Regions from separate parts of the Homo sapiens genome. Here region 1 is reported to be linked to region 2. The links are microRNA targets in miRTarBase. Many come from high-throughput screens and were not tested one by one. Region 2 holds a microRNA gene; the other region holds the end of a gene's coding sequence.
Evidence for each region. Region 2 holds the annotated microRNA hsa-miR-876-3p (UGGUGGUUUACAAAGUAAUUCA, at 4,944-4,965, shown strand). A microRNA usually pairs through its seed, bases 2 to 8, with sites in the 3' UTR of a target mRNA and lowers its output. Matches are read on the target gene's strand: a 7mer-m8 pairs with bases 2 to 8, a 7mer-A1 pairs with bases 2 to 7 and ends in A, and an 8mer does both.

Region 1 (7,739 bases), not on the chromosome of region 2:
GCAGGCAGATAACTTGAGGTCAGGTTATAAATGTTTAATACCTAAAATGATCAATACCTAAAAAAAAAATTTTTTTTTTGAGAGGGAGTCTCATTCTGTCACCCAGGCTGGAGTGCAGTGGCGCGATCTCGGCTCACTGCAACCTCTGCCTCCTGGGTTCAAGAGATTCTCCTGCCTCAGCCTCCCGAGTAGCTGGGATTACAGGTGAGCACCACCACGCCCAGCTAATTTTTGTATTTTTAGTAGAGATGGGGTTTCACCATGTTGGCCAGGCTGGTCTTGAACTCCTGACCTCAGGTGATCCACCTGCCTTGGCCTCTCAAAGTGCTGGGATTACAGGCGTGAGCCACCGCACCCGACCGATACTAAACTATTTTAAGAATCCTGAAAAATCAATAAATGAGAATGCAAAAAAAAATACAGCAAAGGCATCATTAAAAAGCACAGTAAACACGATTGGCCAATAAACGCATATGAACAGATGCTTGACTCACTTGTAATCAAGGTAATAATTTTTTTTTTTTTTGAAACCGGGTCTCACTCCAACACTCAGGCTGGAGTGCAGTGGCATGATCACAGCTTACTGCAGCCTTGACTTCCCAGACTCAAGTGATCCGTCCACCTCCGCCTCCCAAGTAGCTGAGACCACAGGCACATGCCACCGCACCCAACCAATTTTTGTATTTTCTGTAGAAATGGAGTTTTGCCATGTTGCCCAGCCTGGTCTCGTACTTCTGGGCTCAAGCAATCCTCCTGCCTTGGCCTTCCAAAGTGCTGGGATTATAGGTGTGAGCCACCGTGCCTGGCCCAGTGTAATAAATATTGAAACTTATAGCAGAGGTAGGGAAATATGAACACTGATATTCAATGATCAAAGGGATTCAAAACTGGAACAATGGTGGAGCCACAATTTGGCAATAAGCAGTGAAGCTGAAAGTGTATACAGCCTATAACGAACAATTTCATTTCTAGGTAATACCTTAGATTCTTGACTCTTTAAGGAAATTAAAAAATACACAAAATGATATTCAATATAGCATCTTTATTACCACAGAAACTCATTTATGTCCTTAATCATTGTTTAATATAATATATAAGCATGTTTAACACAAACATATCAAGGATCGGGCTGGAATCTTTTCCATTCTATAGAAAAGCACTAACCATCCATTAAAGCAGGTAGCTACTTTCAGAGCATGATATGAGCTGCAAAAAATTGCCCTGACTTATGCCGCCCCCAACACAACCACTCACCATATCTAAAATTACACCCTTGAAGACATTCATTGTGGTTATGGTAGCATCTAACAAAGCTGTTCCTATTCCAGATATTCGGACTGAGAATTCCACAATAAATTTGAGATACACTCAGTTAAATAAAAATGTCTTTACTAAATCTTTGGCAAACTGATCATGTATACTTTGAATTCCTCAAAAGTAGATTTTTATTTTATTTTATTTGAGACTGAGTTTCACTCTTGTTGCCCAGGTTGGAGTGCAATGGCAAAATCTCAGCTCACTGCAATCTCCATTTCCTGGGTTCAAGCAATTCTCCTGCCTCAGCCTCCCAAGTAGCTGGGATTACAGGTGCAAGCCACCACGCCCAGCTAATTTTGTATTTTTAGTAGAGACAGGGTTTCACCATGTTGGCCAGGCTGGTCTCAAACTCCTGACCTCAAGTGATCTGCTCGCCTTGGCCTCCCAAAATGTTGGGATTACAGGCGTGAGCCACCGTGCCTGGCCAAAAGTAGATGTTTTATGTTTTGCTTCATTTGCCTATTTTCCCAAGAAATCTTTTTTTCAAATACCATCGAGAATTAATATTCCTTGAAGCAAACTTCTGGAGAATGTTGAATTTAGGGGTCAAACACAGGCTTTCTGGAGGTATTTGGTGCTTGGGAAAAGAAACACTGACCTATTAGCAAAGATAGATTTTGTAATAAATTCTAAATAAACTTTATTTAGAATTGTGAAAAATAGAATCTTCATAATGAAGGTGGTCTAGAATTTGCTTTCAGAAACTATCTTCATCTAATTTTTATTAGGATTATTTTACCTTGCAGAATTAATTGGTAAAATCTTTAGGATTATCTATTCCTTAAAGTTTTTATAAGTATCAGATTTTTTAAACAGGGAGTTCACACACACACACACACACACACATTTTTTGTTAATCTATTTGGGTTATACGGTGAGTTAATTGTAAAACATATTCCTTTTGGGGGAAAAATGCAATCCTACATTTTTACTTGTACTGGAATGAATATACACGTTTGTGCATGTGTGCATGTATAGTTTTACCATATTATGTTTATTATTTTTGAGACAGGTTCTCACTCTGTCACCCAGGCTGGAGTGCAGTGGCGTGATCTTGGTTCACCGCAACCTCTGCCTCCTGGGTTCAAGCAATTCTCCTGCCTCAGGCTCCCCAGTAGCTTAGATTACAGGTGCCCGCCACCATGACAGGCTAATTTTTGTATTTTTAGTAGAGATGGGGTTTTGCTATGTTGGTCAGGCTGGTCTCGAACTCCTGACTTCAAGTGATCCACCCACCTCGGCCTCCCAAAGTGCTGGGGTTACAGGTGTGAGCCACTGTGCCCGGCCTAGTTTTGCCTTATAATTTTAAAAATCTGCTTGATATAATCTAGAGTTGTGTCTCTTTTATCATCATTAATACTCTAAATGTATTATCTTTCATTTTCTCTTCCTTGATTATAACTGCCAAAATCTAATCACTATTAACATTGAATCAAGTCTAATATTCTCCATTCTCTTAATTTCTACTTTCTACTGTTACTTGGCTGTTCCTTTTTTTTTTTTTTTTTTTTTGACAGACTCTTGCTCTGTTACCCAGGCTGGAGTGCAGTGGCGCGATCTCAACTCACCACAAACTCCGCCTCCTGGATTCAAGTGATTCTCCTGCCTTAGCCTCCCAAGTAGCTGGGATTACAGGCATGCACCACCATGCCTGGCTAATTTTGTATCTTTAATAGAGATGGGGTTTCTCAGTGTTGGTCAGGCTGGTCTCAAAATCCCGACCTCAGGTGATCCACCTGCCATGGCCTCCCAAAGTGCTGGGATTACAGGCATGAGCCACCGCACCTGGCCACTTGGCTGTTCTTTACTTGGGTTGGTTTTATTTTGTTGTTTCCTTTTTCTTGACGGAAATACTTATTCATTCCCTCAACACATTCATCTGTGTGACAGGCCTGGTGTTGCTGCTGTGGGTAAGTGAAGAAGATGAAGACTGTATCCACAAATAAGATTTCCTTACCACATTACAGGGCATTAATTTGTCACTGAACAGAACTTTGATTATATCTGACAAGGTTAGATGTGCAGGCATCTCACTGTCATTCATTTCTACATAGTCTATAATTTTGGTTTTGATTTTAAACATTTTATTATTGAAATTTCAAACACATACAAAAGTAGAAATATTAGAACAATAAGTCTCCATGAACAAAACACTCCACTTAAATTATCAACATGTTGCCAATTTAGTTTCCAGCTCTCTTTGCCAATTATTTCTTTTGCTAGAATATTTTAATCCAAATGTGTCTATCTTCATTTCATAGTATGTATCTCATATCATACGATCTTTTATTTTTTATAATCACACTGACATAATCCCTAACCAAATTAATATATGTAAATATCATTTAATATTTAGTCCATGTCCACACTTCCCTCACTGTCTCCAAAATGGCTTTTTATGTTTTGTTCAAACCAGGTCCAAGTAATGCCAACATACTGAATTTAGTTGATATGTCTCTTTAAGTCTCTTTTAATCTGTTAATGGTTGCCCTTCCCCTTGTATTTTCATGCTACCTGTTAGTTGAAGAAATCAGGTAATTTGCTCTGTAGAATTTCACACATTCTGGATCTGTTTGGCTTCTTCCTTGTGGTGCCCTTTATAGCCAGCCCTCCATATGTGCAGATTCAACCAATCTCAAATAGAAAATACTCAAAAAAAAACAATAAAAATAAAATACAATAAAAATAATGCAAATTGAAAAATACAGTATAACAACTATTTACATAGTATTTACATTGTGATAGGTATAAGTGATCTAAAGATAATTTAAAGTATACAGGAAGATGTGAGTAGGTAATATGCAAATACATACTATGCCATTTTATACAAGGGACTTGAGCATCCTCAGATTTTACCATCAGTGGAGGATCCTGGAACCAATTCCCCATGGATACCAAGGGATGACCATATACTGTTCATCTAGTCCCTGTCTGCTTTCAGTTCATTATTCCAGCAATAAGGCTTTGTAGATGGTGGTGTGGACTTCCTATTGCATTACGTCAGGAAGTGTGTTGTCTGATAGACCCATTTTTATTAAGGTTAAAACAGATCAAAGGGTTCAGAGGTGGCCAGTTTGATAGATCCACCATAAAAATCTCGCTATAAAATATTTCACCTATTAGTTGTAGTACCCATTGAAGATCATGTTTTCTGGACCCATTATTCCATTAAGGTCTAGAAAATGGTGATTTTTCTAATCCTCTAATTCCTTCTAGATTTATTAGACTTCTTCAAAAAAGAAAAACCCATTCAAAAAACAAATTTTTTTTTTGAGACAGGGTCTCACTCTGTCACCCAGGCTGGAGTGCAGTGGCACGATCTCAGCTCACTGCAAACTCTGCCTCTTGGGTTCAAGTGATCCTCCCACCTCAGCCTGGGACTACAGGTGTGTGCCACCATGCCTGGCTAAATTTTGTATTTTTAGTACAGACAGGGTTTCACCATGTTAACCAGGTTGGTCTCAAACTCCTGGCCTCAAGTGATCCACCCACCTTGTCCTCCCAAAGTGCTGGGATTACAGGTGTGACCCCTGTGCCAGGCCAAATTCATTTGAATTTGATGAACTTCTGGTGACCCTGAAATTTGGTTCACATGGGAAAAGGAAACTAAATGACAATTTTTCCTCTGATTTATTGATTTCAAGAATAATGAGTTGGGCTGGGTGTGGTGGCTCATACCTGTAACCCCAGCACCTTTGGAGGCCAAGGAGGGAGGATCACTTGAGCCCAGAAGTTCAAGACCAGCCTGGGCAACATAGTGAGACCCTTTCTCTAAAAAAAAAAAAAAAATTTAGGTGGAAGAATCACTTGAGCCCAGGAGGAACAGGGTACAGTGAACTGTGCTTGTACCACTGCACTCCAGCCTGGGGGACAAAGTGACACCCTGTCTCAAAAAAATTATACATTGGTGCTCTAGCATCTTTCATAGGTTACCAAATTATGCAGCCACAATCAAGTAAACTATCAAATTATTGGTGGGATCACATCAAAAACTCAACTTGAAACAACTCCTACTGGTTGAAGATATGGCATTTTGAGCATCCAAAAGTATACTGACTTATAGAATGATGTTTTGTTTCTTTCCCACAGGAGTTTTATACACACACATAAATATACACAACAATATTAAATTCCTAGGTGGTTAATTTCTTTTAAGCCACATTTTTGATAGTTTCTAATTAATTTTAAACTGTGGTCAGACAACAGGGATTGTAAGCCTTTTGCTTTCTGGAATTATGGGAAAATCATTTCCTATTTCCCTCTAATTCTTCAACAGCTGTATTACTAGTGACCTCACATTCATGAAATTCATTTTTGGCATGAAATTTCTAATGCAGCTCAAGTGCTGAAGAACTTCCTACATTCACTACAATCTAAATTTTACCTAGAATAAATTATGTTTAATAATTTCTGAGAGGTGACAGGAGGCATTTCTACATTTATTATGTCTACAGATCTTCCTTTTACGTGAATTCACTAATACTAATGACAATAATAACAATTACAGATAATATTTACAGAATACATGCTATATGACTGTGATTCCTCCAAGTATTAACTACTTACTCCTTGCAACAATCCTATTCCACAGTGTGGCAGGCTGACTCTAAACAGGCCCCCCAGTGGTCCTGTCTCCAGGACTTATTCACACTCTTGTATCATCCCGTTCTCTTGAGTGTGGACTATCCTAGTAACTTACTTCTACCAGTAGAAGGTGAGGGAATGTTACTTCCATGATTAGATTACACAAGATGGTAACTTCCATCTTGCTAGCAGACTGTCCTCCCTTTTGGCTTGCATGCCTTGATGAAGCAAGCAGCCATGTTGATGAGGCTATTGTGGCCAGGAGCTGCAGTCAGCGTTCAGCCAACAGCCAGCTAGAAACTGAGAATCTCAATGCAACAGGCCTCACGGAAATACATTGGGTAACAACTATGTTAGTCTGGATGTGGATCCTTCCCCAGTTGAGCCTTCAGATGAGACCTCAGCCCTGGCTGAAATCTGTAGCCTTGCAAGAGACCCTGAAGCAGAGGACCCAACTAAGTCATGCCTATACTCCTGATCCAAATTATAAGATATAATTATATGTTATTTTATGCTACTAAGTCTGTGGTAATTTATTACGCAGCAATAAATAACTAATACATATAAGTACTATTATTACCATTTTACAAGTCAGCAAAATGAGGCACAGAAGCTTAGTATCTTGTCCAATAAATCAAACTGGTAATCAAGTGGAGAAAGGGAGATAATGACAGATAAGGCTAAAGATTTTCCTACATTCATTACATTATTCTCTCATAGGAATTTGCTGAAGATAAACCATGTTTAAATGGTGTTGGAAGGCTTTTAAATCAACATATTCTTTCTCTAATATAAAATTTATTATGCTTGGAATTGAGCATGAAACACATTTTCTCAAAAATGAATTTTCTGATGTTCTGTAACATCATATACATTTGAAGGCTTTCTTCTATTAAATTCCATTATGAATCTTCTGATGCTGAGTAAGGTGTGAATGCTGTCTAAAGGCCTTCTTACACTCCTTACACTTGTAGGGCTTCTCACCAGTATGAATTCTCTGGTGTTGAGTAAGAAATGAATAAAGTCTAAAAGCCTTACCACATTCCTTACATTCATAAGGTTTCTCACCAGTGTGAATACTCTGATGTTGGGTAAGTTGTGAGAGCAGTCTAAAAGGTTTTCTACATTCCTTACATTCATAAGGTTTCTCACCAGTGTGAATACTTTGATGCTGAGTAAGTTGTGAGAGCAGTCTAAAGGCCTTTCCACACTCTTCACATTCATAGGGTCTCTCACCAATATGAATGCTCTGGTGTGAAATAAGCTGTGAGTAACTACTAAAGGTCTTCCAACATTCCATACATTCATAGGGTTTCTCACGAGTATGTATTCTCTGATGGCGAACTAGTTGTTGTCTTAATCTAAAAGTCTTCCCACATTCCTTACATTCGTAGGGTTTCTCACCAGTATGAATACTCTGATGAACAGTAAGTTGTTGGCATATTCTAAAAGCCTTTCCACACTCCTTACATTCATAGGGTTTCTCACCAAAATGAATTTTCTGATGTACTCTAAGGTCTGGACCACATACGAAGGCTTTCCCACATTCCTTACATTCATAGAGCTTTTCAGCAGTATGAAGTCTCTGATGGCGTGTAAGGTGTGTACACTGTCTAAAGGTCTTTCCACAGTCCTTACATTCATAGGGTTTCTCACCAGTGTGAATTCTCTGATGTCGAGCCAGTTGCTGATGTACTCTAAAGGCCTTTCCACATTCCTTACATTCATAGGGTTTTTCACCCGTATGAAGTCTCTGATGTTGAGTAAGTTCTTGGAGCACTGTAAAGGCCTTCCCACACTCCTTACATTCATAGGGTTTCTCACCGGTGTGAAGTTTG
Region 2 (8,532 bases):
CAAATAACTAAACAATTAAATTTACCTACAAAACACTGGACTATTATGTGGACAGATTTGAAGTAGGATGAGTTATCTCTCAGATGACAGAAAATTACCCATGATGCCACTTTCGAAAGGCATCAATCTTGAAGCAGGGAGAACAAAAGAGAAAACATACACACATAACCACATGCATGCAGACACACACACATGCTCACTCACTCACTCACTATTCTATGTAGTCTCTGAGTAAATGTAGAGGTCCACTTTATAAACTGGATCTCTAGATATTACTGCTTAGACAAATGATCTTTGACAGTGAACTAAACCCTTCAATGACTGAAAAATACTTCCTGGAGTATAAAATCAAATGTCATCAATGAGGACTTATTCACAGAAAGGCATATTCAGCTGAAGGCAAATAAGTCATAGTATACTTCTGAAGGCAGGAGACTTTATTAAGTGTAAGCAAAGTTAACGACACACACTAGGTTAACAACATTCTTCCAAGCCTCTAGGGATCACCTATAATGAGTAAGAAAGGAAAGATTTGTAATTGAGATATTATCTATTTTTGTATAAATGGATATTTTACATAAAATCCTGAAAACTTTGTCTTAAGTAAACTGGATGCTTTTACAAAATGTTTAAGTATTATTAATATGTTTTATTATTTTTGGGTAAAAGAATTGTTTCATTGTAGGGCAAATGTATATTTGATTCTGTGTAAAATTTATAATTCAAACTTTATGTTTTTACCTAATTTTCTTTTCTCTATATATTTCACAAACACTATAGGTAATGTTGCATACTGGGACGTTATGGGGCAAAGACAAAACATGAGCTTTTAGACAAATCTAGCTCTGTTATTTAAACATTTGTTTAACCTTGGACAGATTACACTTTTTTGTGTGCCTCAACTGCCACGTGTTGAAGGCAGGGATTATGTGTTGTCTGTTGTCAGAAATCAGAAATAAATGAAGTAATACACATGCTTTATGGGTGCTTGATAATGAAAGTTTTTCTTTTTAAAAAATAGTTAAAATTCCAATAACTTTGTGATTCTCTGTAATTTATGGCAAATGTTTACATTGGTGCAGTAGGGGTAAGAGTTTGTCTTCTTTTTTTTTTTTTCTTTACTTGAAAGACATAGAGCCTGCCACATATTTAGCTCAGCTATGGCTAGCACTTGCTTATTATTGTTAGCAATCACTTGCTTTTATACCCTGACTTGCATTGTTTATTTTCAATATTTCAGGGCAAAAGAGAGATTTTATGAGAAAAGGGAGAAAAAAATAACCAGTAGGAGGATTGTATTTACTGTATATGCATTTTTCATTTCCTGTTCTATTTTTATTTTGTATTATTTTACTTGCTCTACTATTTTCATTCTTTTTAGCTTTCATCACCAGGAAAGGATGCAGGCTTCCTTCTGAACTTGCCTTCCCACTCAGTTTACCAGCAGCATTTGTCATATTAGTGGTGTGATTTAGCCCTTAACTGCAGATTCCTCTGTCAGTTCTGCAGCTGTTTTACTTCCTGTCACCAGCAGTAGTTATTTTAAATAGAGCTGATATTATGGCCTGTATTTTGATATTATCTCTACCTTATTTGTTTTATTTCAGTTTTCTTGCTTGTGTGGGTTGAAAAATGTAAGATACAAGATTCTAAGAAATAAGGATGAATCTAGAAAATAAACTATAGTACAGAATAAATTTCTGTTTATACTTTTGAATCAGAACTAAGTTACTCACTTTAAGACCCCACCAACGACGTCTGTCCTCTAATAAACCTGATGCCTAGTTGGAGCCCAATTAAAAAGAATTCTCCATTAGCTGGAATTTACCCCCCGGTGATAGAAGAGTAAGAGAATAAAGTTAATTATATGAATTCATGCTCACATTAGTGATTTTCACACTAACAGCACTCAGAATTTTTTGGCAAAAGCAAAAATATCAATCTACTTCATATCCTGTAACTGCCTGCAATGTACCATATTGTGTAGCACTTAAGTCTAATTCACACCACCCTTCTTCTCTGCCCTGGGTGCCCTGGGTGTTGGCCTTCCTCCTCTCTGCAGCCTTAGAACTTGGAAAATATTCCTTTCATAGCATTGATTATAGGGTTTATGCTATAGTTCCTAATTGCAGATTCAGAATCACTTTGTATGCCCCGTGGTACTCTGAATTCCTTTGGGGTTAGGGACCTTATTTTTCAAATCACAAGCATAGATGGAATAACTGATGCACGGTTATTAACAGAGATGTTGACCACAAGTAGAAAATGACACAGGGGTTCTGGATAACCTTAAAAAAATACAATAAAGCATTCAATATGGTAATTCATTATAAAATAACTGCCTATTTTTGAAGTTAAATAGTGCAAGAGTTTGAAAAAATGGTGTTTTCTAATAATCAGTGCACCGGAAAATTAGTTCAACCAGAACATTTCATTCTCAGTGCATATCATTTATCTACTTATATAAAATAGAGAGCATATTTGACAGAAAATGTGGGAAAATTTTCTAAATTAGCTGAATGCTGTCTAAAGAGGGACTTGCATGAAGTTTTCTTGCATTCAGATTCACAAACCAAGCAAAGCCAAGTACCCGACTAACATAGAGTGCTACATATGGAGAGCATATTTGTCTTGTTTAGTGAAAGAATAGCAACAAGAGGTATAAAATATTGTAAAAACACACCCTGGATTATTTCACTATTATTATTGGATCAACTTAATTTTACATTTGGATTGGAATGGTTATTCAAAGAGCCACTTAAGATCTCTTTAAGTTGAGATGATTGTTTTTTGTTTCTTTGTTTTGTTTTGTTTTTTGAGACAGAGCCTCTCCCTGTCACCCAGGCTGGAGCGCAGTGGCACGATCTTGGCTCACTGCAACCTCTGCCTCCCGGGTTAAAGACATTCTCCTGTCTCATCCTCCCGAGTAGCTGGGACTACAGGCGCAAGCCACTATGCCCGGCCAATTTCTTGTATTTTTCTAGTAGAGACGGTGTTTCTCCATGTTAGCCAGGATGGTCTCGATCTCCTGACCTCATGATCCTCCCGCCTCGGCCTCTCAAAGTGCTGGGATTACAGACGTGAACCACCACACCCGGCCAGGGTGATTTGTTTTTAAACCCATGTCAAACTCTAAATGTATTCCACCCAACTAGTATGCCTGAATTTCACTGGGGAAACTGGCCTGATTCTTCAAGAGGTTTTGCCTGGGCCAGTTTGGGATTGAGTGTGACACTTGATGAAGAGCTGGAGGACCTTTGTATAACTGCTCCTTTACTCTGCCCATATTTCAGACAGGTTGCCTCATTATTCTGGAGTTCTCTTACTTCAAATTTTTCTGTCCCTGCTGCCTCTGATCTGGTGATGCTCACTTGTGTTCACCTACTCTAACTGTAGCAGCAGTTTTCCTTTTCAGCTATAGTATACCAAAAAATAAAATAAAAATCACGTTATTTCTTTGGATAGGCCGTGGTATATGTGTTCTCTTCTGCTTAGAACACTTACCCCACCCTTCTCATTGCTAATTCCTGCTACTCTTTCAGTTCTCTTATATATGGTATTCCCTTAGAGAAGACATCTGTAATCAACGCTCTTAGCACTGAATTAAGTGGCCTCTCCATGTCTCCATTAGCCCTATATGGAAACTTTTCATAACACCTATTACTGCTTTTTTCAAATTCTTGTTTTCTCCTTTGTATTTCTTGAAACCTGGAGTTTTTATATCCCCAGCATCTAACCAAGACTATGCCTGGCACATGATAAGCGCAAAACAAATATTTTTTTTTCATACATACATATTTTCTACAAATTTTTTATTTAAATATTTTTAATTATTCAGATACTTAGCAAGTTTGGCTTGGTTGTTATATGTGTGGTTGGTGGAGGTGAGTAGGGTATTCCTGAGCAGTGACCTACACTGACAGTGGTGAACTGCCTAGGACTCTTATGTTCATGAGCTTCTATAAAGCAAACTTTTAATTAATGTTGACATTTGATGGTTACTTTGAAAAATGTTGAAATTTTCAAAAGCATGAATTACTTGATTGATATTATGCTTACTAGGCTGGGAAGATTTATAGATTCTTTTCATTAATTATAAATGAAACCTTTCTTTTTGCTCTTTAGATAAAAGTTAAAAGGTGGGATTCTGGTTATTTTGCAAAGGAGAGTAACTTTATTGTTTGTTTTTCATTTTTTATTGGTGTGGTTTTCTTTCAGAGTTGAACCTAATATGTATAATATAGAATTTAGTTTTATAAACATTCTTGGACTTCAGCAGTCATATGAAAAAATACTTACTTGGACAAATATCAGAGGAAAAAACACTCAGGTTAAACTCATTTAATGATTGCCTTTGAACTTTTATTTTAAGTTCAGGGGTACAAGGGCAGATTTGTAACATTGGTAAGCTTGTGTCATAGGATATGAGATTATATGAGTATAAAGTGGGAAGCTAAGTAACTGAGGATATCTTTAGAACAAATTATCCCAGCAACACTTATATACTGTGATATGGATGTGAGAATTACATATAGTTTTATTATTTATTCTACTCCCTACTCCTGACATCTATATTAATAACCATGCCCTTTTATTTTGATGAGCAGAACCCTGTTTTTTCATCCTGCATAATGTCATGCTAGTTATTGTATTAGGAATTCTTTTAAATGAAATTTACTGGTATATAATATAGAAAGCATGCATTTATTTTTAAGTTTTATTTACTTAAAATAAATGTTCAGTGTTTCTTGTGTGTTTCAGCTAAAAGAGGGTGGTGCAAAACTGAGCATATTCTTCAATTGATTGTGAACTAGATGGAAATACTTCCTCAACTTTTGGTGGCCAAAGGGTACTGTTTTTGTTGGTTCATAGGTACCAGGCTTTACACAAACTGTGAAGTGCTGTGGATTTCTTTGTGAATCACCATATCTAAGCTAATGTGGTGGTGGTTTACAAAGTAATTCATAGTGCTTCACAGGTGCTTCTGCAGTTGATCTACACCATGAAGCCTAAGATTCCTTTACTGAGCCATTGAGAACAAGCCACTTTGTATTACAAGACACACAAAGTCAAGAGATCCCTGGTAAATATACTCTAGAATCCTTCTATTTGGTGCTTAGTGTTAACAGTGATCAAACCTGTGTCAAACACACCAGAAATTATGGTTACTTTACCTAAATATACATGTTTTACATAGTTGCTGTCTCTGTCTCTACTGTTCTTTTTTTGAAAAGTAATTTGTAATATTTCTTGGTTAAAAAAACATGATACATCAGAAACATTAATTGAATCAGCCCCTTAAATCCTAAGCATACCATTTTGAAGTTTAAATATCATATTTTATTTGGATTATTATGCCCAATTAATATATTAATTAAATAGTTTGGTAAATGATCAGGGGCTTGAAGACATCATTGTTATGCAGTACTTTTGTAAAAAGCAACATTTTATTTTAACAAGAAAAACATTGGTGTGGGCAAAAAAAATCACCTTAACATACCAAATTGTACATTTTGATGGCATATATTAAAATTAGGTATTCACTGGGCATTCATTTTCATTTACTCTTCTGGAAACAGTATCTATAGTCCTATTCTATGACAGAAAAGATTGTGTAACCTTTACAAGGTCACAAAAGCCTAATTGTTGACTAGTAATTGCTTATTAAAATAAATGGAACTTTGTGGTCATTTCTGTCATCAGGATTACCAAGAATGGATTATCCCTGACCATAAATCAAACAATTGATGATTAACTATTTTAATAACTGATTAAGCTTTCAAATAGTCATTTTGGTTTTACCGTTTTTTATTTATTTCCAAGGCTAGAGCGTAGGTCTTATTTAAGTTCAATGGTATGACTATAAGACTGTCAGAACTATGAAAACTTCTGACCTTTAATTTCTTAAGTGACACATCTGGACACCTAAGTGACAGTGGTACAGGCTTCTGAAATTACTTTTGCATCATCATTGAATATATCTATTGTATTCATTATGACTTTATTTTGTCCTGTTATGTTTCATTCCTTAGAAGTGGATTATGCATATGCTCTATAAGGTTGGGTGACTTTAAATAAATTAGCATACTAATTTTTAAGCCCTTCTGTTAGATAAAAGAAAATCAGTATATTATTTTTCAACATATAAATGACCAAAAGAATGAATCAATATGTATACTTTTAACCTTAAAATATATGTGTATAAATATGATTGGAAATGCTTTACCTAAGAAATATCTTGCTACTCTAATTTAATTTGAACTATGATACAAACATGTTATTCTTATTTCCTAGCCTTTAATTCTTCAGTATTTATTATTACCATTCCTTGTCTGATACATATGTAACCTTATTTTTCATAGGACTGTATGTTCATAAGCAAAATCCACAGAGCTCTGGGATTTCCTGTGCTTTTGTTGGGTGCTACTTTGCTGATGTGTGAGGACAGGTGGGAAAAGAGTCTGAGAAGACAGGTTTCTGAAATTAATTTGTCCTAGAGCTCTTTGATTTTTCTGTTTTATGAAAGGGGGCACCTGTAAAATTTCCTTTGAGCCGAAGCTTATGTTTTTAATGATAATATGTAGAACTGCTGATATATGAATTTAGAAGGAAGTCACAATATTTTTTCTTAAGATAATTTTTAGTTTACGGGAGATATAATGGGATGTGCTAATGGACTAATAAGCATATCTCATAATCATGTACCTATATCCTTGTATCCTAATTTTAATCCCAACTTCTTTATATTTATTTCACTACCGCTTTTTTTATTTTTAAGATAAATACAGGTTTACAAACAATGAATTAATTTTTAGTGTAGGTTTTGTGTTTTTTGGTAAGAGACAAAAAACATATGTTGCCCTGGCTGGGGTGCAGTGGTGCAATCATAGCTCACTTCAGCCTTGATTTCCTGGGTTCAAGCAATCATCCCACTTCAGTCTCCTGAGGAGCTGGGACTACAGTGCCTGCCACCATGCCCAGCTAATTTATTTTATTTTGTTTTATTTTATTTTATTTTATTTTTGTAGCAACACAATCTCACTAGATACTCATGCTTGAGTGCAGTTATGAGTAGAACATGTGTTCAAAGTGAACCTGAGGTCTCCTGTTATGGACAAGGTAATATCAAGCTTCCCTAATTTCTGTGAGAACTATATGAGAATAGATATGTTTAAATGAATGTTATCTGTGAGAATTTTCTAGAGAACAGAACCAACAAGATTTTTGTGTGTATATATATATTAAATATGTATATATATTAATAATATATATTATATATAGTATATTATATAAAATATATAATATATAAAATATATAATATATAAATATTATATATTTTATATAATATTGTATAAAAAATATATATTATATATTTATATAATATTATATAAAAAATATATAATATATAAAATATATTAATATAAATATATTTTATATATTTATATAATATAAATTATATAAAAATTTATATAATTTATATTATATAAATATATTTTATATATTTATATAATTTATATTATATATTTATATATTAATAATACATATTATACATTTATATATTAATAATATGTATTATATAATATATTATATTATATATTAATAAATATAATATATTATAGATTTATATATTAATGATATATAATATATTATATATATTATTTTTTACCTTTTTTTATTTATAAGGCTAGAGCTTAAGTCTTATTTAACTTCAATGCTATGACCACAAGACTGTCAGAACTCTGAAAACTTCTGACCTTTAGTTTCTTAAGTGACACATTTGTACAACTAAGTGACAGTGATACAGACTTCGGAAATTGCTTTTGCATCATCATTGACTATATCTATTGTATTCATTTTGACTGCATTTTGTCCTGTTATGTTTCATTCTTTAGAAGTGGATTATGCATATATATATATATATATGAAATATATATATGACTATACATGACAGATTATATATATGCATCTTTATATATAGAGAGAGAAATAAAGACTATCTATCTATCTATCCATCTATCTATCTTTCTTCTATCTATAGAGAGAGGGATTTATCATAAGTAATTGGCTCACATAATTGTGGAAGCATGGCAAGTCCAAAATCCGATGAGATGGGGCAGCTGTCTGGAGGCTCAGGGCAGATTTGCAGTTCAAGTCCAAGTGCAATCTAATCTTCTGGCAAAATTATTTCAAGCATGGGGAAGGTCAGTCTTTGTCTATTAAGGATTTCAACTTATAGGTGAGGCCTACCCACATTATAGAGGGAAATCTGTTTTATTTCAAAGGGTACCAATTTTGATGTTATTCTCTTCCAAAAATCACCTTCACAAAAATATCTAGCATAATGTCTGACCAAATATCTGGGCACTATGGTGCAGTCACGTTGACAAATAAAATTAATCTTCACAGTAAAAATGGTATTTTTCCAATGAAATAAATTTTTGATTTTCAAACAATAAGTTGGTGTTCTTTGTAAGATTTTCTTAATTATTTTCCACATATTTCTATGGGAATGTGAAATTTAAAATATTTATG

Region 1: miRTarBase lists ZFP14 as a target of hsa-miR-876-3p. Seed matches in the 3' UTR shown: 7mer-m8 at 5,454-5,460 and 7mer-A1 at 4,289-4,295.

Annotation. Positions count from the first base shown.
Region 1 is chr19:36,333,431-36,341,169 of GRCh38, forward strand. ZFP14 (ZFP14 zinc finger protein) reads right to left here. Exons shown (of 5, transcript NM_020917.3): 5 at 1,023-7,739. The coding sequence ends at 6,794. Among named protein-coding and RNA genes, the nearest start is that of LINC00665, 5.6 kb to the left of the region's middle.
Region 2 is chr9:28,860,069-28,868,600 of GRCh38, reverse strand. MIR876 (microRNA 876) reads left to right here and starts at 4,895; the gene lies at 4,895-4,975. All of the region lies in intron 2 of LINGO2 (leucine rich repeat and Ig domain containing 2), which reads left to right.